Regions from separate parts of the Homo sapiens genome. Here region 1 is linked to region 2. A link means that fine-mapping ties the variant in region 2 to the expression of a gene that starts in the linked region. Tissue or cell type: iPS cells. Region 2 holds a variant in brackets; the other region holds the start of a gene. All regions are shown on one strand. Distances are from middle to middle.

The links. PIP is the estimated chance that this variant, and not a neighbour inherited with it, causes the effect.
Region 1: AXIN1 starts here. The variant in region 2 is fine-mapped to the expression of AXIN1 in iPS cells (HipSci, PIP 0.95).

Annotation. Positions count from the first base shown.
Region 1 is chr16:351,197-353,872 of GRCh38, reverse strand. It overlaps AXIN1 (axin 1), which reads left to right and starts at 1,150. Exons shown (of 11, transcript NM_003502.4): 1 at 1,150-1,504. RefSeq lists silencers at 482-741, 782-1,261, 1,362-1,441, 1,722-1,771, 1,792-1,861 and 1 more.
Region 2 is chr16:296,067-298,742 of GRCh38, reverse strand. It overlaps AXIN1 (axin 1), which reads left to right. Exons shown (of 11, transcript NM_003502.4): 6 at 492-1,021; 7 at 1,517-1,687. Among named protein-coding and RNA genes, the nearest start is that of PDIA2, 14 kb to the right of the region's middle. The variant G/A (reference allele first, on the strand shown) is at 1,680.

The sequences.
Region 1 (2,676 bases), 55 kb before region 2:
GGCCTGCAGGGCAAGTGACACGGATCTGGGCAGCCAGGGTGGCAGGATCGGACTGGACCCCTTGGCAGGGCCGCTGTGGAGACAGCCCAGGGGAAGGGGTGCAGGGGTCTGGACACTCCAATGGCCTTGCTCTCGGGCTGGCCTGGGCAGCGGAGGGAAGGAGAACCCTTCTCTGATACTAGATGGTGCCTGGGAGAAATCAAGGCAGAGGGTCCTAGCCGGTGGGCTCTTTGGAGGTTGTGGCTCCTGTCCGGGTGAGAGCCACCATATATTGGGGCCTAACGTGTTCCCTGGCGCTGTGAGTCCAGGCTGCCTTGGGACTCAGGAGGGTGGAGCCCACCCCACCTTCCAAGGGCCCTGGCCATCCCTGCCTGCCGACCACCCCACTCCTGGGAGCCTGCTTCCCTCACGGCGGCGGGCAGGCCGTGGCGGTCCCCACGAGGGCCTCCTCTCCAGGGCCGGCTGGGCAGGGAGCCCCGAGGCCTGCAGCCCCCTGACTGCCCTCCGATGTACTGGCGGCAGAAAAGGGCTGCGCCCCACGTGCGCCCTTCGGGGCGCGCAGTCCGCCCAGTGCTCCCCACGGCCGCGGCCATTCCAAGGACCTGCAACGCCGCCTCTCCCACTCCGCTCTCTGGGAAGCCAAAGCCTCCCGGGCTCCGCTTCCGCACCGCCCCTCGGGAAGACGGCGCGACCGCGCCCCCGGCACGCCCCGCCCCCGGCAGGCACTGACCACGCCCTCTCCCGGCCATGCAGAGACCCCGGCCCATGTTTCTCAACTCGTCTTCTCGCTTCCGGCCCCGCCCCGCGCCGGAGGCCCCGCCCCACGCTCTTTACCTCTTCTGCTCGAGGCGGGCCCCGCCTTACTCCCTGGTCCCCGCCCCACGCCCGAGGCCCCGCCCCGAGCTCTTCACCTCGTCTTCTCGCTTCCGGCCCCGCCCACGCCCCGGCCCCGCCCCGCGCTCCTCACCTGTCCCCTCGCTGTCGGCCCCGCCCCACGCTCCTCACTTTATCCTCGCGCTTTCAGCCCCGCCCCGCGCCTGAAGCCCCGCCCCACACCCTTTACCTCGTCCCCGCGCTGCCGGCCCCGCCCCGTGTTGAGGCCCCGCCCCGCGCTCTCACCTCGTCCCCGCGCCCCGGCCCCGCCCCCGCACTTCCGGACGCCGCCGGCGGGGGCGCTCGGGCCTGGGCTTCGGCGCTCTGGCTCGGGCTCTGGCTCGGGAGGCGATCGTGGCCGCTGCCGCCGCCAGAGCCGGCCGGAGTCGGCCCGGAGCCGCGTCCACGCGGAGCGGGCGGGTGGGAGCTGGCGGCTGGGCCCCTGCGGCGCCCCCGCGGCCTGCCCCGCGTCCGCCTCCGGGCCGCCGAGCCGCAGCCGCCGAGATGGGGGCCGCCCCGGGCCGCGCCCCCGCCGGGTCCCGCCCGCCGCGCTGCCGCTGAGCGCATGGGCCCGGACCGCGCCGCGCCGCTCCGGGAGCCGGGCCCGGGGTCCCGCCACCACCGCGCGCGGGTGAGTAGGGCCGGGCTCCGGGGCGGGCTAGGCCGCGGTAGGCCGGGCGGGCGGGACCCGGAAGCGGCGGGGGGCGCGGGTGGCTGACGCGCGTGGGACCGAGGGGGTGGGCGCGCGGGGAGCTGGGGCCGGGGTGTCCCTGGGCAGCGGGACTGGCGGCGCGGTGGCCGCTTGGAGGTCCGAGGCCTCGGGCGCGTCTCGGGGCACGGAGCAGCTGCAGGGGCCGCGCATCGCGTGCGGGGGCCCGGGAGAGCCGGGCCTGGAGCCCTCCCCGCCGCCCAGAAGTCGGCGGGAGTCCGGCTGTCCCGGAGGAGGACACTCCCGCCCGCCCTCGCCGAGGCCGCGTGCCGGGTCCGGGTCGGGGTTCGGCCTGAGTAGCCGCGTGCTCCGGCGTCCGTACCCTCCAGGTTGATGCCTTGCTGCCCAAACACTGGTCTTTCTCTTGGGTGTGGTTCTTAGATTCTACCCCCGCCCCGCACTTTGGAATTTAGCCCCCGTGAAACCAGAGCTGCACTGCCCGAGCAGTGAAACTTTCAGCTTGGCATTGAAGAAAGTAGAGAAAAACATGTCAGTTCTCTGGGGATTTTTCTCAGCCCATCTATAAGATATATATATATATATTTTTTGTAGAGATGGGGTGTCACTATATTGCCCAGCAGGTGTTGAATTCTTGGCCTCAAGCGATCCACCTGCCTCAGCCTTCCAAGGTGTTGGGACTACAGGGGTGACCACCGTCCTCTAAGATAATTTTTTTTTTTTGAGACGGAGTCTCGCACTGTAGCCCAGGCTGGAGTGCAGTGGCGCTATCTTGGCTCACTGCAACCTCCGCCTCCCGGGTTCAAGCAGTTTTCCTGCCTCAGCCGCCTGAGTAGCTGGGATAACAGGCATGCGCCACCACATCCGGCTAATTTTTGTATTTTTAGTAGAGACAGGGTTTCACCATGTTGACCAGGCTGGCCTGGAACTCCTGACCTCAGGTGATCTGCCCACTTTGGCCTACCAAAGTGTTGGGATTACAGGCGTGAGCCACCGCGCCTGGCCCCTTCTAAGATAATTTATAAAGGGTTCTTATGTGCATGTCAGCCCCTTGTTTTTGCTCACACTTCTGTTCTCTGCTTCTTCAGGAAGAATCTCGAGCTTACTTGGATCCACAGGCCCTATTTTGGAGAAAA
Region 2 (2,676 bases):
GCTCAGGCATTCGAGACCAGCCTGGCCAATATGGTGAGAATCGCATCTGTCCCCAAAGTACAAAAAAATTAGCTGGGCGTGGTGGCACACGGCTGTGGTCTCCGCTATTCTGGAGGCTGAGGTGGGAGGATCGCTTGAGCCTAGGAGGCGGAGGCTGCAGTGAGCTGAGATCACACCACTGTTCTCCAGCCTGGGCAACAGAGCAAGAACTTGTCTCAAAAAAAGAATAAAACTAAACTAAATCTGTGCAGAGCTCTGCCCACAGCCGATACATACGCTGCATTCCTTGAGGCCTTGCTGTCTCCGCTCCTTCTGTCTATGCCCCGTCCTGCCTCTCCATCCTCAGGGACAGGACCGGTGGCGAGGGGCCCCCGGCCACCCTGGGCTGGGACGGCATCTGCTGGGGCTGCTGGGTCAGGCCTGATGCTTTTTGTTTTCCCCAAGTGTGCAGCTGGTGCTGAGAGGTGATGGTGCTGCTTGTCCCCACACAGGAGGAGGAAGGTGAGGACGGCGATCCATCGTCAGGGCCCCCAGGGCCGTGTCACAAGCTGCCTCCCGCCCCCGCTTGGCACCACTTCCCGCCCCGCTGTGTGGACATGGGCTGTGCCGGGCTCCGGGATGCACACGAGGAGAACCCTGAGAGCATCCTGGACGAGCACGTACAGCGTGTGCTGAGGACACCTGGCCGCCAGTCGCCTGGGCCTGGCCATCGCTCCCCGGACAGTGGGCACGTGGCCAAGATGCCAGTGGCACTGGGGGGTGCCGCCTCGGGGCACGGGAAGCACGTACCCAAGTCAGGGGCGAAGCTGGACGCGGCCGGCCTGCACCACCACCGACACGTCCACCACCACGTCCACCACAGCACAGCCCGGCCCAAGGAGCAGGTGGAGGCCGAGGCCACCCGCAGGGCCCAGAGCAGCTTCGCCTGGGGCCTGGAACCACACAGCCATGGGGCAAGGTCCCGAGGCTACTCAGAGAGTGTTGGCGCTGCCCCCAACGCCAGTGATGGCCTCGCCCACAGGTGAGCGTGCGCCTGTCAGTGAGGAGGGGGCTTGGGGTGAGGCTGTGTCCCTGCAGAAGGCCAGAACCTCCTCATAAAACTCAGGAAACCCAGGACCGCCAGCAACAGGCAGGAGGCCCCTCTGCTGGAGGGAGTGGACTGGGCCCTGGGTCAGGGGAGTCCACGCCGTGACCTCAGGTGGGAGATGAAGGTTAGGGGACACAGCCCGACCCTGGCTCCCGCTCTGGCCCTCAGTCTTCAGGGGGTGAGCAGTGACTGCCTGTGTGTTTAGAGAGGAAACCAACCCCCAGACAGCACCAGGACAGCGGGCAGGGGACAGCGGGTGGGGGACAAGCTGGCGGGGGACAGCGGGTGGGGGACAAGCGGGCAGGGGACAGCGGGCGGCGGCTGCACCACGGGAGCCTTACAGATGCCAGGAGGGGGCCTCGCAGACGAGGAAGGGGCACAGCCTCGGCCACCGGAGGCCAGGGCGACTCGCAGCTCTTGCCCTTGCAGTGGGAAGGTGGGCGTGGCGTGCAAAAGAAATGCCAAGAAGGCTGAGTCGGGGAAGAGCGCCAGCACCGAGGTGCCAGGTGCCTCGGAGGATGCGGAGAAGAACCAGAAAATCATGCAGTGGATCATTGAGGGGGAAAAGGAGATCAGCAGGCACCGCAGGACC[G/A]GCCACGGGTGAGCACCCCGCACGCAGCCAGCCTCGTGGGGCCTGCTTTGCCACCCCTGGCCTCCGCACAGTCTCAGTGTGTGCAGCTTCAGTGTGTGTGGCGAGTGTCGCCTGTGACGCCTCACACTTCCCCTGTCACTGTGGCACCCTCCCGGGCACCCTCCAGCAGGCTCCCTGGGCCCCACGTCTCCAGGAGGAAAACCTCATGTCCCCAGAGAGAGGCTGTCCCTGAAGCCCCGAGCAGGAGGGAAGCTGACGTGGCTGTCACCCCGCAGGCAGCACAGATGCTCTCGGGAGGTCATTTCCAGTCTGACCCCCACATGAGAATGACCTAAGTCACCTGGGAAGGCCCCCACTGACCATCACTCCCGAGGTGCCCACGGAGGAGCCTTCTGTGCTCACACCTGGCCGTCCTGCTGAGGGCTGGGGAAGGCTCTTGTGTAGCGTGAGCACTTCTCTCCTCCCAGAAGGGCAGAGGCCTCGTGTGTGGTGTGGAGCAAGGCCCCGGCGCCACAGGTCCAGCCCCTGCCGCTGCCCGCCGGGCCGGTCTTGGTGTTGCTCCTGCTCGCCCCCTGGGCCTGCACTCGTGCCCGGAACCCAGCAGGAGGGCCAGGGGCCCCACAGAGGTGGTACCCCCCACCTTCCTGTCGTGGTCAGAGGCAGGTCAGCTGGGAAGTGTTGGCCCTGGTGGGTGGATGGCCCCAGCTTCCTCAGACTTAGGTCCTGATCTGCCCCCCACCCTCACCCAGGCCCTGGCCAGGACGCATCTCCCTCCACATTACTTGATGAGAACTTGTGAGGCAGCTGAGCGCCTGGGGCGTGGCCCTCCTGCCTGTGTTGGAAGCCTGTCCCGCAAGGCCTTGGGGTCCCCATCGGTGCTGACTGAGGTGGGGACGGGCTCATCGTTTTTCTGGGGCTCCCGAGGGAACAGGGGTGCACAGCACCTTGCCTGGCTCATTTTTTGTAGAGGGGGTCTCAGTGTGTTGCCCAGCTGGGT